Linked DNA regions of Homo sapiens: all the other regions are linked to region 1. Evidence: fine-mapped expression QTL. A gene starts in region 1. Each other region holds a variant in brackets. All regions are shown on one strand. Distances are from middle to middle.

The links. PIP is the estimated chance that this variant, and not a neighbour inherited with it, causes the effect.
Region 2: its variant is the best candidate, but not a certain one, in a credible set for the expression of DMXL2 in whole blood (INTERVAL, PIP 0.79).
Region 3: its variant is the best candidate, but not a certain one, in a credible set for the expression of DMXL2 in lung (TOPMed, PIP 0.58).
Region 4: its variant is the best candidate, but not a certain one, in a credible set for the expression of DMXL2 in whole blood (TOPMed, PIP 0.50).

The regions. Positions count from the first base shown.
Region 1 is chr15:51,620,688-51,625,839 of GRCh38, forward strand. It overlaps DMXL2 (Dmx like 2), which reads right to left and starts at 2,084. Exons shown (of 44, transcript NM_001378457.1): 1 at 1,772-2,084. The coding sequence starts at 1,858. It overlaps LOC105370816 (a long non-coding RNA gene), which reads right to left. Exons shown (of 5, transcript XR_932236.3): 4 at 4,488-4,599; 5 at 3,997-4,138. RefSeq lists an enhancer at 1,222-1,631 and a silencer at 2,002-2,221.
Region 2 is chr15:51,456,431-51,461,582 of GRCh38, forward strand. It overlaps DMXL2 (Dmx like 2), which reads right to left. Exons shown (of 44, transcript NM_001378457.1): 34 at 3,168-3,230; 35 at 2,279-2,365; 36 at 2,076-2,197; 37 at 898-1,036. Among named protein-coding and RNA genes, the nearest start is that of GLDN, 120 kb to the left of the region's middle. The variant T/G (reference allele first, on the strand shown) is at 2,808.
Region 3 is chr15:51,422,486-51,427,637 of GRCh38, forward strand. No RefSeq gene overlaps it. Among named protein-coding and RNA genes, the nearest start is that of GLDN, 83 kb to the left of the region's middle. The variant A/G (reference allele first, on the strand shown) is at 2,643.
Region 4 is chr15:51,551,929-51,557,080 of GRCh38, forward strand. All of the region lies in intron 6 of DMXL2 (Dmx like 2), which reads right to left. Among named protein-coding and RNA genes, the nearest start is that of DMXL2, 68 kb to the right of the region's middle. The variant C/A (reference allele first, on the strand shown) is at 2,982.

The sequences.
Region 1 (5,152 bases):
TAAGGTGGTGGTTAAGGATATGAAAAGGAGTAAATCTGGTAGACAGTGCAGAGTCAACTAGACTTCGTGAAACGCTGAATTAGGGAAGTGCAAGAAGATTTGAAAATGACTCTAAGCATCTGGTCACAAGTGGCCTACAGCATAACCACACCTGCACAGCACTAACAGTTCTTACACAGGCTTTTCCAGGCTGCATCTGAACCCGTTTATTTAGTTCTACATACCAGACCTGCCGTGAGACAGCACTCCACTTTAGATGGAAGCAGAAAACTACCACCACCATTCTAGCAGGAAAATATAACCAAAGATTCCAGCTTTGTTTCTTGATGAAAGAGGCCCACTCTTCTAACCCTGAGGAACTTCCTATCTGCACTACTGGGGAACAGGGAAATTTCTTCTCTCTATCCCCAAAAACCAAGATTCTCCACACACTTGAAGACAAAGCTCAGCTCTATATGAATATTTTAAGTCACATGTACATAAAACACAGATGACAAAAGGGGTCGTTCTAAACTGGAGCTAGGCCAAGTGGATTACACTAAAAAATTAAAATGGCTAAAAAGCAATCTTCTGGGGTTAATGTATCACAAAACGTCAAAAAATAAATTCTGTTCCAGAATGCACTGCTACATAATGATTCTGCAGTTTTGCTGAAGCTTTATTTTCCGCAGTTTTAAAAACACTGTTGGAAAGCAGACATCAAAGGGTTTTCCTTGTCTAAAAAGCATACCATTACGGAATTTCCAGTTTTATCAAGAAGAACAGTTTACAAAATATATTTAATAAAGGTCTGGCTGCCTACAGTTCCTTATAAGGAAGACCATGTATAAATTTCATTCTTTAAAAAAGAACTCAATTTATGGGAGTCTATCTATGAGTAAACGAAGCTCCAAGGCTTGGTTTAAACATTTCCACTCTCAAAAAGGACTGATGAGTCCAATCTCCTTGAGAAACATGTCTACTTCATCTAGCTTTTAAGGAGATTCTAAAACGTTATGTATACATACACTTTTCTCAAACAAGCACTGTTGTAAATTTTTCACATTGCCTTACTATATTAAAAAAAAGGCTACCTTACAGATTAAAATATTATCTAGGAGGATTACCAAACTACGACCTCCTGATAAATGAGACAGCTCTCCAAGCCACTGTGACTCTAACCTTTCCATTCTAAATCTTTCGGGCGCGGAGGATGAATTTTTCTATCTTTTTGTTGGAATTAAGATCCTGCATTATCAGGAGATACAGAGTCAGGCTTAAAGCCACAGACTCCAGCAGCTCCTCGCTGCCCTAGCACAGCGGGCAGGGGGAGCCAAGGCGCAGCATCGCCTCCACGCTCCGAGACCAACACCAAGTCTCTTCACCTCCACGCTCCGAGACCAACACCAAGTCTCTTCGCCTCCACGCCGAGAGCAGCTGCGAAACGGACGCTCTGGGGTTTCAGCCGCACCACCACTTTCCTCCACCGCAGACCGAAGGGCCGCCCTAGGAGGAGCCTTCTAGTCCAGTCACCTCAGGCCCGTTTGCTTGGGGTGGAGAGTGCGGTGGATTCCTAAGCCTTTCCCCTAACGGGTGATTTCCTACACCAGACGCAGGACCCACGGTCCCACGGGTCCCAGGGGGAACTAAACCCCAAGGCTGCAAAGGGGCCACGGGTGGGGCCCACCAACATCTCACAGCCTCCTGAGGAGGCGTGCGCCCTGGACAGGAGGTCCCTGCCCCCGCGTCTGGCCCCTGGTATCTTCCCCTAGGGCTCCCGGCCGCCGCTCACCGTGAAGGGGACATCCCCGACGCTGCCCACGGAGTAGCAGTTGTCTCCAGGGTTGACAGCTCCGGTGAGGACCTGATGCAGATGCATCTCCGGAGCCCGGGCTGGACAGAATGCGCGGGAGGTGCGACAAGCTCCGCGCCTGACCCTCCTCGGGCTGCGAGAGCCGTTTCCCTCTGTGCCTCCCTCGGAAACCCGCCCCGCGGAGGCTCTGGCTTAACTCCTCGCCCCCCTTTCGCCTTCCCTCCGCCTCGTCCCTGCCATGGGAGCTCCTCGACCGCCGCCGCCGCCCGGGTCGCCGCTCAGCTGCGGAAATGCCCGGATGTTCCCACTGCCTGCTGCACCGGCGCACAAATGCGGGAGGGCAAGGGTGCTTGTGAGGCGGGGGAGGGCACCGGGGGGAACGCGCGAGCCGGGAGCGTGCAGCAAGGGAGCGGGCCAGCGCGCGCGCCCACCGCGGGGGAGCGAGGTAGAGCCCTCCCCCCGCGGCAAAGCTCTCAGCTCAGTCTTTCTTCCCCCCATCACCCGCGTTTGCGCGTGCGCGCGCCGTGGTTTCCAGGGCAATTGCGCGCGCCACGCCGACCCGCCGTCCCGTGATTGCGCGCGCAGACGTGCGGGAGTTCCCTTGGAGCCTCCCGGGCTGTAGCCGCTGCGGACTGGGGCGGAGGTGGGGGCGGGGGCGAGTGGGGTGCAGGTCGCTCGGGGCCACGCAGCAGTCGGACGCCGGGGACGCGCCACGAGCCGGTTTTGCTGTGTTGAACGTATTCCAGAATACAGTGTGCAATGGTCAGTGCCGTTGACCTCAGAAGGACACCCGTCACCGGGAATTTCCACCTGGAGATATCTTAGATATCTTCAGTCTTTTCGAAAGTGCAGTACATAAGATATTTTATTTTACATAAACAATGTAGGCATCTTGCAACTATTTAGAGAAGCCATACTCCCCTGAAAGCTAATTATTTTGCTCCCACCTTTTGTCACGGTTATTCTAGACAGCAAAAAGCCGCCTTAGAGACGGGTGACTCCTTTCGACTTTTTTTCATGAGTAATTTCATGAATTAGCAGAATCGCCTGATTTTCCAAACTATCTGCTAAACTTTGAATGGTTGATAACAAGGATCATCAGCTCCCTGCCACAGGCCAATTCATGGCAAATGTTCTAACCCATACTATGCTTAAATCACAGGGTAAGGAAGTAGGGGACACCAAGACATAACTATCTGTAAAACCAGGCAGAACGCCAAAGGTGGTGTGATTGAGATATAAAAGTCTTTATGCACCACAGAAGAGGAAGAAGAATGTTGACTAAGGGCGTGGATAAGGCATTATGGAGACATAACCTGACATAAACGCTGAGTTTAATTTTGACAGGCTGAGATAGACAAGAAATGCTGCAAATACAGTACAGAAAATAGAGGGGGTGTTGAAGGTACAAAGATTAATGTTTGAGGCAGATGATTTATAGGGTAGGGAAAGTAAATAATACTTAGCAAGAGATCAAGGTATCCAAGTGGTCTAACTCTTGGCCTACCAAAACATATTATGGAGAGTCTTGAATGCTCCAAGAAGCCCAGATTTCACTCTGCATGCAGTGGGGGTATATCAGATGTTTCTGAGCAAAAATTTATATAATCAGAGCTGCTTTGGGAAGATGACTTTGTAGCATTTTGAAGCATAAAGGGAAGGGTGGGGAAGATTGGAGGCAAAGATCTGTCAGTCGTTGGTAATCTTTTCAGTAGAAAGTTGCAGGAGGAATGAAAAATAATACCTAATGACCTGCGGCATTCTCTCTCTTTCTCTCTCTCCCCCCTCCCTCCCCTTCCCTCCCCCCCCCTTCCTCCCTTCCCCCGCGCCATATCCAAGGGTTCCTTTTTGTTACTACTAGATTCTAGATGAGTCTCTTAATCTTTGACCTTCACTGCATTAGAAACCAAGTCAAAACTATCATCAAACAACAAATTGTACTCAGGTTTCCAAGAGTGTTACTAATTCACATTATTTAAACCATTTCACATTTGGCTCTTGTTTTACAGCATTCCATGAAGTTTTGGCCCATTCACACAGTTGTGAAGTTGTGAGCCTCTTTCTTCCTCTCGGTATCAAACTCAAAATCTGAAGCCTGTATCCACCTGTTCTCTTCCCTCATGAATCCTTTAAATGGCTTCTTGATAGCTGTATCTTAAGGTTGCAAATGACTAATTAAGTCTCCTGGAATTACAGCTGAGCCTTTTATTGTCCAATCTGATCAGTCAAAACTCACTCCAGACTAATATGGCAAGTTTCCTTGGTAGCCCACCAGGGCAGCTAGACCACACTTTTGACTGTCCACAATTTCATCTCTTCCTTGTTCATGCAAATTTTTTCATGGACCTAAAAACAAATTGGAAATTCTTTCTTCTAATTTTGGAAAGGGCTTTCTTTTAAAAATTAGAAAAAGTAGCAGTTTTGTATCATTAACAAAATATGCTAATCGAATTGTAAGATATAATTTATCATGTCCACAACTCTTTTTTTTTTCTTTTTGCTTTGATTTGAGATCCCAACACAACTCTTAATAGTACCTTTGGGGTTGGGTTTAATGGCCCATTGAATGTGTGCCATTAAATGTGGGACTTAGTTTCCCAGCAGTATCACCTACCGATGTGTACTAGTTATCAATTACTGTGCAATAAATTACCCCAAAATTTATCAGCCAAAAATAACAGTAGAGATTCATTACCTCACAGTTTCTGTGAATCAATAATTTAGTAGTAGCTTAGCAGGAAAGTTCTGGTTCAGAGTCTTTCATGAGATGGCAATCAAAATGTCAGCTACATGCTAAATAAAAGAAGCTGGACACAAAAGACCACATAATTCGTTTGTATGAAATCATTTGTATGAAATTTTCTGAAAAGACAAATCTACAGTCACAGAAAATAGGTTAGTGGTTGCCTGGGGCTGAAGGTGGAACTGAGAGTGACTGCTAATGGATATGAGGTTTCTTTTTGGCATGAGATAAACATTCTAAAATTAGATTGTGGTCATGGTTGGGCAGTTCTGTAAAATTACTAGAAATCATTGAATTGTATACTTGAAATTAGTGAATTGTATGGTAATTAAATTATACTTTCAATAAAGCTATCTAAAAAAGAAATAGCCAGGGATACAGTCATCTGAAGTCTTGACTGAAGTTAAAGGCCCTGCTTCCAAGATGGCAGGCTCTCATGGCTAGCAAGTTGAGCCTAATAGATAGATGGAGGCCTCAGTTCCTATGTGTTCCTCTCCATAGTGCTGTGTGAGTGTCCTCAAGACACGGCGGCTGACTGCTCCAGCAGCAAGTGATCCAAGAGAGAGACCAAGGTAGAAACTGCAATGTCTTTTATAAACTAGCCTTAGAAGTCACAC
Region 2 (5,152 bases), 160 kb before region 1:
CTTCAGGATAAATTCTGACATTTATTCTCTTACACCTTGCTTATTACTGAGATAAAGCCTGTTATGGATGTTCTGAACCACTACATAGAACACTTGTCTGAAGAGGGTGAGGAAGCACAGTCACTTGCTGGTATAGCCCTGGCCTGTGAGGTTACCAAGGAGCTTCATCTCATAATAAAGGAACTCTTCTTCAAGTGCCCCTCCCTGAGGATATTCAGGAGCACCTCCAGATGCTTCAGAGCAGAACATAAGAATGGGACCCCTCCAGCTACAGTGACAAGAATGTTACTGACATGCTTTCAAGCACTTAGAAGTAGACATGAATTCCCCTTTAACTTTGCTTTACCATTTTGTATCTGTTTATTCATCTGTAAAATGATAATGGAGGGTAATAATAGCACCTACCACCTAGGATTGTTGTGAGAAAAAGCATGTATCTGACACTAAGAAAGTCATATGAGGCCAGTGTGGTGGCTCATGCCTGTAATCCTAGCACCTTGGGAGGCTGAAGCGGGTAGATCACTTGAGCCCAGGAGTTCGAGAACAGCCTGGGCAGCGTGGTGAAACCCCATCCCTACAAAAAATACAAAAATTAGCCAGGCACGCTGGCATGCACCTGTAGTCCCAGCTACTTGGGAGGTTGAGATGGAAGGATCAATTGAGCCCAGGAGGTCAAGGCTGCAGTGAGCCGAAATTGCACCACTGCACTCCAGCCTGCGCGACAGAGCCAGACCCTGTCACCAAATAAAAAAGCCACAATAAATGTCAGCTGTCATTATCATGGCCTATCTACTGGTGTTTGTCCCTGAAATTTAGGATCATTCCTATGTCAAAGAGATTCCAACTGATTTTTCAGAGTCCAAATCCAGAAATGATACCTATAAGTAAATAACATACCACACTAGCTCCAGTGCTAGTCTGTCCAGTGCCCAGCCATGGCAGAGATGAAGGTGGATGCACCTGACTTGCTGAATAGGATGTTGCACTGGGTTGATAAAGAGTTGTAGTGGAACCACGATAATCAACATCATCTGAACTGTGAAAAACATTCATGTGTTACTGTGAACATTCCCTTTTCTCTTAACACAAATTCCAACTAAAAATCTTCTTATGTACCCATAGGACAATCTTTATTTTAAAAACTAAGTAGCCATGAGAAAAACTTAGGTACAAGTCCTAATCGCCAATGTTAATACTGGTTAACTTTTTTCCCTTTTGGCAAAATGTAAATTTAGTCTAATGTTGTTTGGGGACAACTTTATTGCTGCACAAGTTGAAACAAAAGTTTGTTGTTATCTATGGAAAAATATTATGTTCTCTTCAAGTACAGATAGCTCAGTATCAAATTAACACGTTTAAAGAAATTTGAGTTTAAAGATTTCTTGGAGTAAGACATATAAAATGTGAAAGTAATTGTTGGGATGGATTGTATCATAGTACATGGTTATATCTACTCTGAAATGTGATATTAAATCCTAGTTATATCACATACTAACAAAAAAAAGAATTCAACAAAATGAGGAGAGAAACTATCATGGCACCATCCTCAAGCATGAACAATTTCTAAGAGTCTGGAGAAAAGCAGGAGGGAAGGCAAACCACAAAGAAGAAACCTCAAAATAGGTAAGAATGGCAAAACACTCTTGGTGCAGTGTCCATAGCTTCAATGAAAAGTAAAGCCGTCTACATTTTTATGTTTAAGAAAAGGTATGCTTATCAGGTGATAAGAAGAAACACTGCAAAATTACTCGGTAAATGTGACTCAGTGTAATTAACATATTTGTGTCTACTGTTTTAATTATCCAGATCAGATTAATTTACTGAATATCATGAAGCCAAGTGTTAGGGATTATCCTTATTGAAATATTATCAATAGTGTAGGGTTTAATGGAAGTGTAATTCATTCAGTTAATGTAGACAAAGACTTTCACTGGCAGCTAAACCAATTATATTTGTCACCTACCCAAATGAAGGAGATACACGTATACCTTTTGAAATAATTCAAATCATGTGCATAACCATTTGGTGGGTACTTCTTACAGAAAACTATATGTAAAAGTGACTATGAGACAAACCTTTTGGATTCTCTGTCATATTCTTCTCCGATCCATATGTATGACTGACAGGCCAGTAGAGAAGTAACATCAAGTTCTTGAACATCATGTGTTGAAGCCAAAACAATTTCATTACAATTTGCCTATAAAGCAAAGGCAGAATCGATGATTTAAGCAATTTCACTAAGGAGAAATACACTGTGTATAATGATGAGAGCTTTTACCTTATTAACAGAAAATGCCATGATCATATCAGATTCCTTATGGATGACTTTCGCCTTTCCACCTGGATAGCCCAGATCAGCTTCAACCTAGAAAACATTCATCAGCAGTTTTAGTTGCTGCAGCACAGCTCTATTTAGAGTTATGCACATCCCATAAGATTTAAATGTAGGATAAGAAGAAAATGTAGCAGCAGCAGCAGCAGCAGCAGCAAGAAAAAAGGGTAAGAGTAACTTTAATGTGTTGAAAACTAGCTTTGGAAAATTTGCTTAAATTCTCTGATGTCCTGTAATCACCCCAATTTCCACTGTGATGGTAAGATACTGATTAATTATAAAACATGGCTAATATATTTTTATTAGTAATTTATACAGTAGTATGTCTCTCTTAGCTCTTCCAAAAGTGCATAAATATTCTGCAATAAGAATGTGTATACATTAAGAGGCACAGAGTGGAGTAAAAAGCCATAGAAAACCGCAAAGAAACCACCCTTTGAAGTAAGGGTGGTGAGACAGAAATAAGGAAAAGTTG[T/G]AAAGAGGGATACTTCGAAAGGAATAAAAGAGACTGATGAGAGGAAGATGCAATGGCTTAGGGTTGGTGATGGGAAGGAAAGAAAAGGCAGAATCAAGAAGATGAAACAGCCATGCTTAAAACAGAAAAAGTGACAAGTGAAGATGGGACAGGGAGCAAGAAAGAGAAGAACCAAGGGCAAGACAGAGCAAGCCAGATACAGTGAAGCATCTCCTCCCCTGTGCCACTGAAGTGGTATGGGAGTACTATGAGTTCTCTGAGTAGTTAGCCAGTTGGGCAGGTCATGGTTAGTATCAGAGATGAGGCGTTAGCTCCTTGAACTTTAAAGAATGAGCTAAATACAAGATCTTGGAATACTACCTTGATGTGGCAATCTTCTGCTATGCAGTTTTGGTTGACCTGCTCCACATGTTCTTCTATAGACTAAATACCACCACACCGTCACAAACACAAAACACATGCATGGAATGAAATTATAAAGACAGTGAAATATTTCAAGCTGAAATGGCCACTCCACCACTTAAAGATGATAAAAATGAATTTGCAAAATCAAGAAAAAATTAAACCGAATAAAACAGTCATCAAATAAACACAACACAAAGCCAAAAGAGCAAAATTAATGTGACTATTACATAAACACAAGAACATAAAAGCTATTTCAAAATAAAAATTAGTTATCTGTATACAGTTTTAAGAAATCTAAGTTACATAACTGGTAATCTATAAAATTAAAGCCCATTTGTATAAGCAGATGCAGAAGATGCTACATAAATTCCTGCCCTATAGGGGTTGATTTAAAATACAAATTAAAATATTTATTTCTAAACATAGATTCAAAATATTGATAATTATTTCACTCTTATAAGGAATATGATGATTTTTCTCTAAGTAAATAAATGTTTAATAAAATCAGGCACGGAAAAAGAAATAACTCAGTAATTTGCTCCCGGGTTGATGCAGGGTCCTAAGGATGGCTGCAATCAGAAGTTATATTTCTGCTCTGCTGTGGAAACTCTGAAGGTTTGATCAGAGAAACAAACTCTTCCTCATACCTTTTCAGGTGACTGCCTTCCTTTCATCACGAAGGGCCATTCAAATTTTCTGCCCATGCCTCCAGGGACTCCCCTATGGCTGCTGCAGCTGATAAAGATGCATCCAAGAAAACTTCCAAGGAATGGTCAATGTGTGGCACAGCTAACTCAGTGAAGGCCAAACTGCTGAAGAATCTATTTGTCTTAACTAGCTGAATTCACCAATCTGTTTCCCAAAAACTTGTTTTGTGAAATATTTTCCTGTAATATCTTCAGTGAATAAAAGATCTTATTCTTATAAATATATAACTTCAGCATTTCTCAGGGATTTTTTTTAAATGCACCCAGCATTTTTAGGATTAGCCTGCCAATTTTATTGGTCAATTTTCTGAATTTGCCAAATTTAGTGATTACCAAAATCCTATTTGACAATTTTAAAGATGTAAGCACTCTTACTGGATTGGGTAGAGTTTTAGTAAGTTTTGCATATTTCTGAGCCTAACGACGAGTTTTTATTTTGTCCTAACAGCCTTAATGTTTTATTCATAATTTTTTTCTTAATAAAACACCTTTTTTTTCAGATCTGAGCTATTCAAAACAGCAATCACTAACCATATGTAACTATTTAAATTTAGATCAATTAAAATTAAAATTCAGTTTCTCAATCATGCTAGCCACATTTCAAGTACTCAGTAACCACATGTGGCTGGTGACTACTATGTTGGACTATGCAGATACAGATTTCCATCATCACAGAAAGTTCTATGGGACAGTACTGGACAAGACAGTAATTCCATTCAATGTTTTAAAATTAAAAGGGTACATGATAAAAATTCTTCCATCCTAACTCCCAGCCATGTACTTCCCTTCCTTGGAGCCAACTGATGCTTATATAGCACTTTAAGAAACATTCCGTTTATCTCTGTCCTACTTCCCTGTTCATGGGGACCCACTGCTGGAAGAAAAATAGAACACACAGAGACTGAGGGGCATAATGGAAGGGAGACTAAGGGGCGGAGAGGGGGAGAATTAGTTAAGGAAGAAGCAAACTCGTGGGGAAGGGCAAGACGAGAATGGGAGGGTCCAAGAAACCCAGACACCTGGCTTCCCACAGCACTCTACACTCTGACAAGTCAACCAGTCAAGCTGCTATCAACCTTACCAATACTTAAAACATACTTGTGATAAATCATTAATTTTAATAATTTGAAGAACAAAACACTCAGAAAATTGATCACTCAATGAACTGGTTTTCTGTGAATAACAGAGCCCCTAATTGACCAGAAATCTTATTGATTAAGACAGGGTCTCACT
Region 3 (5,152 bases), 200 kb before region 1:
GGTGTCAGTGTGCCCCTGCTGGGTGGTGCCTCCCAGTTAGGCTGCTCGGGGGTCAGGGGTCAGGGACCCACTTGAGGAGGCAGTCTGCCCGTTCTCAGATCTCCAGCTGCTTGCTGGGAGAACCACTGCTCTCTTCAAAGCTGTCAGACAGGGACACTTAAGTCTGCAGAGGTTACTGCTGTCTTTTTGTTTGTCTGTGCCCTGCCCCCAGAGGTGGAGCCTACAGAGGCAGGCAGGCCTCCTTGAGCTGTGGTGGGCTCCACCCAGTTCGAGCTTCCCGGCTGCTTTGTTTACCTAAGCAAGCCTGGGCAATGGCGGGCGCCCCTCCCCCAGCCTCGTTGCCGCCTTGCAGTTTGATCTCAGACTGCTGTGCTAGCAATCAGCGCGATTCCGTGGGCGTAGGACCCTCTGAGCCAGGTGTGGGATATAGTCTCGTGGTGCGCCGTTTCTTAAGCCGGTCTGAAAAGCGCAATATTCGGGTGGGAGTGACCCGATTTTCCAGGTGCGTCCGTCACCCCTTTCTTTGACTCGGAAAGGGAACTCCCTGACCCCTTGCGCTTCCCAGGTGAGGCAATGCCTCGCCCTGCTTCGGCTCGCGCACGGTGCGCACACACACTGGCCTGCGCCCACTGTCTGGCACTCCCTAGTGAGATGAACCCGGTACCTCAGATGGAAATGCAGAAATCACCCGTCTTCTGCGTCGCTCACGCTGGGAGCTGTAGACCGGAGCTGTTCCTATTCGGCCATCTTGGCTCCTCCCCAAGAATAATTATTTTTTACATAGGCTTTTAAATTGGCTTTGATGGAACCTTGTTCCATGGTAGGAATCTCAGACAAGACTTTTTTTTAAAGCCCAGCGCAGCCATAGATTTGTACCATGAAGTACTTATAAGTTGGGTGAACTCCTCTCCTCTTCAAGTTTCTTGATAAACTTGGAGCCCCTGGGCCTGTCAAATAGTGACATTTTTTACTTACCACAGTCAGGAACCCTGTACAGGGACTGTGTAGATAAAGATATGAGGCCAGTTTTTCCAAGGGACCTTCATTGGAATTGTAAGTCAAGTTTGATTCCTTCAAGGAAAGCACACCATTCCAGTCACAGCCTTGGTAATAACCACTTTCTCCAATTGTGTCCTGTTACAAATGAAAACCGATTGTTATTGCACTTATGTGAATAATGGTATTGTCTTAAGAATACTCACACATGGTTTTCAAATATTGTAGAAATCAGGTAGAGAGAAACAAATATGCTCCAAATTTTGTTTATAGGGGTATACTTTAATTACTAAAAGCTGTAAATAGCTTAGAAGAAAAGTTTTCTTGACTCAGAAAAACAAAGGATCAACAACGTTTTAAGCAAAAAGTTAAAAAGATTACTACTTTTAGACTTGTATTAGTTTAGTTCATGCAGTTAATTCCTGTACTGCTTGATATTCATGAACATTTCAGCTCTCCATGAGTCCTGAAAGTTTTTGCCTCTATTCTGATGTCACAATCTCCAAAGTTATCAGAAACCTGCATTTCAGAGTACCTGTTAGAATTTTATAGCTGATTATAAAACCACCTCCCAAAGAGGACTAAAACAAGATGACAGTTGTCCATGGATGACAAAAAGATTTAGGGCAGCCATAGTCAAACACACAATTGACAAGAAAATTTGTTACCTCTATGGCACACAATAATTTAACATAATTATTACTGATAATGTATACTGTATTATATCAGAATTATAGGAGTTTCCCGTAATTTTGGAACACATACCAATAACATAACTATACAAATACAGCTCAAAGAAAACCAAACACCATTTCATATTTGACAATGTTTCCTGTACAATTTTATACCAAATAAGCCAAACTATGTCATTTTAGGACTTTTGGGAACCTAATATCTTAAAGGATTAATTAGGCCAGAAAAAGACATAATTTATAATTTGATCTTGGAAAGTTTTCAACTATCAAAGGTTTAAAACTCTTGTTATCACAAAATAGGATCATTCATTTAACCAAAGTAATAACTCAAGGGTTTTTTTTAAAAGGCAAAAACCTTCATTTTTTTTGGAGGAGACTTAATTTTCCAAACAATAAGCCCTAATAAAAACAGCATGCAGCCAATTAAATTTGTTTTTCAAAATTTTATAAACTACCTATAAAATTTTAATCTTGACCATAAGAAACAACTTCCATAAGCCTTTTATAACATTTATATCCTTTATTAAGAAGTTGGTTAATGCTTCAAGAAAACCTTGTTAATCTGACACAGGGGCCCATACACTGGTCTTGCATCAGAGTGCCTTTGACATTAATGATTTCTATATAATAGAGAAACTGAAGTTATCTTTCAAAATTGGCCCTTACAATCTTCTGTGCCCACTTCTTCCATGATGCCCCTGGGCCTTGAGTTGAATAGCTTTAATTTCTGGCCCTGTGTCTTAGGAATGCTGTTTATTTTGATTGACGTCACCATAGGAATGCAGTTTGTTTTGATTGACATCCTCTGTGGGGCCTGAAGGTGAGGATTTAATTGCTGTCAGTGTTTAAGATTTGGCAGGACTTGATGTCCTTTTTAGACCCAGGGGTCAAAGCCCTGTAACTCACTGTAACAAGGACTTTAAAAGCATGTACAGAAAGATACACAGATGT[A/G]ATAACCTCAACTAAATTTTTTTTACATCAGGCCCAATCTCTAGAATGACCATTATACTTTTTTTTAATGAAAAACAACTTGATCTTATAAGTTTTTGGTTTTTTTAAATAAATCCTCTTATTGTGATTTACATAGACCATTCATGACATGGTTAGACTTTCTGGTTTGTCCTGAACAATCTTCTTTCTTAACCAGTCATTTTATTCTGGGACTAAATTTACCATACAATATTTTGTTCTTACATAAAATTATCGATCTTTAAGCTTTCTTACCCACCAAAACTCTTTACTTTTATAATTTTCTTTACATCTTTCATATTTCCTGGTTCCTTTTAACTTGTTTCATATATAACCTTTAAATCAGCTTTGAATTAGACAAAAATTATTTGCCTTTTTAAAAGGACACTTTTTTTAGTAAGAATGTTTTTCTACAATATATTTGTGTAGGAAAATACTCAAATAATGAAATATGTTATTTAATATAACCTTAGATTCTAAACTATAACAAGTTTATCTACAAGTATTTATCCCATACATTTACCTAATTATTTTAATCATTTACTTAGATTAAATGATGACTATGCAGTTTTTATAAATAAAGCTATGAAACTGTCATTGCAAAATTATAACTGAGACAGTGAAAAAGATCTGCCCTAAATGACTGTCTTGCTTCTAACCTCAAGCTGTCATTGTTCATTCCTGGATATAGGCCAAACTAACTTTGAGAAGGGCTTAGTTTATAGTTTAGCTTGATACAAAAAGGATAACAGTCCTTTCCCAAGGCAAACCACCTTACTGCCTGTGTACTCGACTGCCTAAGGCCACAGGATTAGAAGTTAAGATAATTTTACTAAATTCAAGATGTAGCTATTTTCATTAAACCAATATTAATGTCTTATTAAAAATTACACAAGCAAAGATCATTCTGTTTGGGGCTGTTGATAGTTTTGTAACCCTTATGCCAAATGTTGATACCTTATAATATTTGGCAAGGATAAGTATGAAACTGCTTGATTAATAAATGTAAACAAATACATCTGCTGGCAATTCTTAAGACATTTCCGATATTGATCAATAATTTTAAAGCTAGCTTATTAAGATTTTACTTAAGTCATGTAAATTTGAAAAAGGATTTGACCAGTTTTTCCTTTAAGATAAAGTATTTGATTTAGGCACTTTTATTTTTTAAAGCCAATTAGAGCTCTTCTATATATTTTCAGTAGTGAAACATTGTGTACACAACACTTAAATACATAGATGTATTAGGAATGCCGATAAAAGTACAATTTATAGATTCATAAAAACCTTTTTCCCTCTATCTTAGACTTTCAGATTCTTCATAACCTCTTTCACAACCCTAGGCAGTTGTCAGGTAAATAGCCTTAAATTTGCATATTAAAGGAAACAAGGTGAAAATCAAATAGCAAAATTTACATCATAAGGTACAGAGAGAAAAACTGGTGTGCTAGAGGGAGATTAAAGATGGATGTCAAATCAAACATAAAATTATAAAAATCTATCATATGATTGTAAAAGGAGACCAATTATATTTAGACAGGGATTACCTATCTTTTTTTTTTTTTTTTTTTTTTTTTTTTTTTTTTTTTTTTTTTTTTTTTGAGACGGAGTCGCGCTGAGTCACCCAGGTGGAGTGCAGTGGCGCGATCTCGGCTTACTGCAAGCGCTGCCTCCCAGGTTCATGCCATTCTCCTGCCTCAGCCTCCCAAGTAGCTGAGACTACAGGTACCTGCCACCACGCCCAGCTATTTTTTTCTATTTTTTAGTAGAGACGGGGTTTCACTGTGTTAGCCAGGATGGTCTTGCTCTCCTGACCTCTCGTGATCTGCCTGCCTCGGCCTCCCAAAGTGCTGGGATTACAGGCGTGAGCCACCACGCCCGGCCAGGGACTACCTATCTTTTAACTATATCTCTAAACTTTAGGCAGAACCCACACTGAATCGTGGGTTTCCAAAAAGGGAGAATCGTTATGAGGCTAGATCACATGATGTTACAATGCACTTAAAATTTTTTAAACAAAGGCATTTCTAAGTGTCTATATTACACTCTAATTTAAAAACCCAAGTATAGCCTCTGTTGCAATAATTACTTTAGTTAATCAGGTAACACAATACAAAAGCAGCTTAAAAGCTGAGATGAACTTGTCTATTCACAATCTTGGGGTTCCATAAAGAAAAACAGGTTCCTCCCCGAAAGGGAGTCTGGTACCTTCTCCATTTTCTTTAAGGAACCCCAGGCTATTATAAATTATTTTAGTTCCCTCATGCAGCAGAGGGTGCAAGAGAAAGAAGAGACAGCAGAAGTATATGGAGAAAACAGAATTCAGTCAACTAGAAGAAAAAAACTTTTGCTCAAAACAAGGACAAGGCCCTAGGAGAGAATAAAAAAACATGAAGGCCTTTTAAATACACACACACACACACACACACACACACACACACACACACACATATCCTGGATGTGTTAGCTTTTAATTAAGCTGACTTTGTCCA
Region 4 (5,152 bases), 69 kb before region 1:
TGACCTTGCCTGGGAGATCAGAGGATTTCTTAAGCAAGTGGTATTTAAACTGAGAGTTGAAGGATACATAAAAGACGACCAGGTAAAGAATAAGGAAGTCTGGGTATTGTAGGTATTCCCTAGACAGAGGGAACAGCACATAAAAAGACGTGGAAGCAGGAAAGAGCTTGGCATATTCAAGGCCTTGAAAGGACATCAGTGTCGTAGGCATTAAGGTGGGAATGAAGCTGGAGAGGCACGGAAGGGCCAGATCATACAGCAGAGCCTCACAGGCCATGGTAAAGATCATAATCTTCATTTTAGGAGCAATAGGAGTCATTAAAAGGTGGTGAAAAGGAGAACGGCATGTTCAGGTGGCTGGCTCCTGTGGGCAGACCAATCAGAGGATGTTTGCAGGACATCACTTAAGAGACTACTGTAAAGGTCTGCAGCCCCGAAGATGCTGACACAGGTAGTGGCAGTGGAGGGCAGAGACATGGACTTCAAAAACCTTAGCTGCTTCTGTGATCACTAAGATCATTAAAACTTTATGATTCCACAAAAGTTTCTTTGCTTTAATTTACGCACAGTTAGGCCTGTACTATCTACAGATGTTTAACTGTTCTCCCATGTGTTCTAGGTCTTTTGACAAAATTAACTGACATTCCCTCCTTGAACCTTTTTTCTTGGCTTCTCTAATGTCACATTCTCCTGGTTTTCGTTTTATTTCAGTGGTTACTCCTTCCCAGCATCCTTTGTAGGTATCTCCCCTCTCTCTATCATTTCTTAATGTTTGAGGATCCTGGGATTTGATCCTGAGTCCCATTCTCTTCTCTAATACACACGTTCTCCCTAGTTAATTTCATCCAGACCCATAACTTTAAACACCGCCTTTGGCTAAAGAATTCAAATTGCCAGAGAACTCCTGACTGTCTTATCCTATCTGATATGTTAACTCAGATGCATCTCAAACTTTGGTCTAACCACTACACTCCAGCTTTCTGTTGCTCTTTAACAAGCCCTGCTAATTCCTATTTCAGAGCATTTGCACTTGGTGTTTGTTCCCTTGGCCAAAAACACTCTTTCCCCTGAACTTCACAGTTGTCTCCTTCGTAGTATTCAATTCTCAGTTTAAAGGTTATCTCCTCAGCAAAGCTTTCTCTATAGATCACTCACTCTAACAGACACCCAATCACACTACTATATCATCCTGTCTTAATTTTCTGGACAGCACTTGTTAATACTTGATATTTTTTTCTGTCTTTCCTCACCAGAAATTAAGTCCTATAAGAACAAAAGCCTTGTCTATCATCTTCATCATAAGACTGCCAGCACACACAACAGTTCAGGGTATATGGTGGTGTTCAAAAGAATATCTGCTAAACATGTGAATGAAGGTTGTTAATTTCAGATATAATTTCAAATCAACTTTTTGTCCAAAATGCACTATCAATTTTACGTATATAAAGTCTATTATGATATGAATACAACTATAAAAGATTCTCATGTGTCTCACAAGTGCAGATTGCTAGAATTCTAAAATGCATTTTCTTTGCCCCGTTATATGATAAAAAAAAATCAAACAATATATATGTTAAAGTACAGTTGACCCTTCAATAACATGGGTTTGAACTGCACAGGTCCACTTACACGTGAATTTTCTTCTGCCTCTGCCACCCAAGACAGCAAGACCAACCCCTCCTCTTCTTCCTCCTCTCTCACCTACTAAATGTGAAAATGATGAGGATGAAGACCTTATGACCATCTACATCCACTTAATGAACGGTTAATTTATTTTCTCTTCCTTAAGGTTTTCTTAGTAACATTTTTCTTCTCTTCCTTAAAAGAGTATAGCACATATTGGATGCCACATGCAGGGTTTAAAAAAAAAAAAAGAGTAGAGTATACAATACCTATAACATACAAAATGTGTTAATTTATTGTTTATTTTATTGGAAAAGCTTCCAGTCAATAGTAGACTATTAGTAATTAAGTTTCTGGAGACTCAAAAGTTAGACAGGGATTTTTGACTGTGCAGGGGGTTGGATCACCTAACTGCCATGTTGTTCAAGGGTTAACTGTACATGAGTCAAGGAAAACTTAAGTGTATACAATACCTATCCATGATCATAGTGCCATTAACGATATTTAAAAGGAGGCAATAGGAAAACATGCTCCAAATGATGCACAGTGTGTACAATATCCAAGCTGACATCAGCAATGATTAACTGGGAATATCATAAAGCTGGATTCCAGTATGACTCTCCAGCAGCTCTCTGACATGCTGAACTGGTCCTATATTAAATCATCCATAGGTTCACCTATTATGGATTTGTTAAGTCAAAGGAATGACTGGCTTTATTAATCACTTATTAACGTGGTAATCCTAAGAAATATGAGTAACAAAAAAAAGACAAATCTGTGAGTTTTTTCAGTCAAATTTTAGGAGTAATGGGGTATTTGTTTTTAAAGATCCAAAGTTTTAAAGGTGACTGCCTGTTTTAGAGATCAAGACATGAATTACGTAAAATAAAATTAAAAAGGAAAAAAAGACATGAATTATATTATTTCTCAAACTGTTTTTCCAGTGATTCTGACAAGTGTACCCTTCATGAGATACCCACGCTTCTCAAGACATTACAGAAAATTCTTCACGTGTCTCTACATTTCTATCCAGAAATACTGTTTTATTATTTGTAGATTATTGAACTGGCTTATCAAAATTTCAGTGTTTTATTTTTAAAATCTAGTTTAAAAACAATGAGGCAAATTAGATGGAGTGGAGTGTGCAGGGGTGAGAGTTAGCAGAAGATGAGGTTGAAGCAGTGACGAGAGTCCTGGTAAGCATGGAGCATGCTAAACCATCACGAAGACTTGGTCTTTTGGTAAATGAAATGGAAAAGCTTTTGACGGTTTTGTACAAAAGAAGAGTGACAAGATCTGACAACATTTTAAAAAGATCACTCCAGGCCAGGAACAGTGGCTCACACCCATAATCCCAG[C/A]ACTTTGGGAGACCAAGGTGGGCAGATCACTTGAGGCCAGGAGTTCGAGACCAGCCTGGCCATCATGACGAAACTCCGTCTCTACTAAAAATACAAAAATTAGCCAGGTGTGGTGGCACACGCTTGTAATCCCAGTCACTTGGGAGGCTGAGGCACAAGAATTGCTTGAACCCAGGAGGCAGAGGTTGCAGTGAGCCAAGATTGCGCCACAGCACTCCAGCCTAGGCGACAGTGAGAGACTCTGTCTCAAAAAAACAATTTTTTAAATCACTCCACCTGCTGGTTTGAACATAGATTGTACAGAAGTGCAGCAAAAATTGGGAAACCAATTAAAAATTTAATACAATAATACAAGTGATAAATAATGGTGGCTTCAACCAGATTATAAGAGTGGAGGTGGTAAAGAAGTAAGCAGATTGTGGATATATTCTAAAGGTGAGCCATCAGGGAGTAGATTGAGGGGTTAGGGAAGTAGAGATCAGGGAAGAGGTACAGGCAAAAAATACAAAGTTGAATGTCATCAGCATACAAAAATGGCATTTAAATGGCATCAGAAATCTTAAGACTAGAAGAGCCCTGGGCACTCCAACATTTAAAAGTAGAAAAGATAACAGTAACAACTAAGCAGGGGTAGCCAGAGTTAAAAACAGGCAGAGTACAGAAGACTTTTAGGGCAGTAAAAAGACCTACAAAATTGATAAACTCTTGGTGAGATGAATGAAGAAAGAGGGAAGGCATAAATAATATCAAAACTGAAGAAGAAATCACTATACATGTATTATAGATATTAAAAGATAAGGTGTTTTACACAATTTTGTGCTAATAAATTTGAAAATCTAAATAAAACTGAAAAATCATAGGTAAATACAACTTACCAAAACTGACATACAAAAGAAAAAGAAAATCTGAATAATTTAAAAAACTGAATCCTACAAAGAAAATTCCTGATCCAGATGGCTTCACCAGCAAATACTTAAGAATAAAACTATATCAATCTTACATAAACTCTTCACAAAAGAGAGCTTTCCAACCCATTTATAAGGCCAGCATAACATCAACATAAAAATCTGTCAAGGACATTATGAAAACGGGAAAATTATTGGCCGAATCTCACTCTAACACATAAATCTTAAACAAAAGATCAGCAGATCAGGCCGGGCGCGGTGGCTCACGCCTGTAATCCCAGCACTTTGGGAGGCCAAGGCAGGTGGATCACGAGGTCAGGAGATCGAGACCATCCTGGCTAACACGGTGAAACCCCGTCTCTACTAAAAATACAAAAAATTAGCTGGGCGTGGTGGCGGGCGCCTGTAGTCCCAGCTACTTGGGAGGCTGAGGCAGGAGAATGGCGTGAACCCAGGAGGCAGAGCTTGCAGTGAGCCGAGATCGCGCCACTGCACTCCACCCTGGGTGACAGAGCGAGACACTGTCTCAAAAAAAAAAAAGAAAAAAAAAAAAAAAAAGATCAGCAGATCAAATCCAGCAAGGATAACACATTATAATGAAGTTGGGATTGTTCCAGGAATACAAGGTTTACAAAATCAGTCCATGTATTTCATCTTATTAAAAAATTAAAAAGATGGCCGGGCACAGTGGCTCATGCCTGTAATCCCAGCAGTATGGGAGGCCGAGGCAGGTGGATCATCTGAGGTCAGGAGTTCGAGACCAGCCTGGACAAAATGGTGAAACTTCATCTCTACCAAAAATACAAAAATTAACCGGCATGGTGATGGGTGCCTGTAGTCCCAGCTACTTGGGAAGCTGAAATGGGAGAAATACTTGAACCTGGGAAGCTGAGATTGCAGTGAGCTGAGATTGTGCCACTGGACTCCAGCCTGGGTGACAGAGCGAGATTCTGTCTCCAAAAAAAAAAGATAAAAATTGTCTCATTAGATGCAGAAAAAATGCTTCCTAAAATTCTATATCGTTTGTGGTTTAGAAAAACAATCTAGCAAACAACAAATAGAAGGAAAGTTTCTTTATCTGAAAAAAAAGTATCTACCACAAACATCAACAGTAAACATTATATTTATGATGACACAGTGAAGGGTATCCCTTTGAGACTGGGAACAAGAAAAAGATAGACCTGTTGTCACCACGTTTATTCAGCACTCTGCTAGAGGTCCTAGACACTGCAGTTAAAAAAAAAAGGAAAAATATGAAAAATGGGA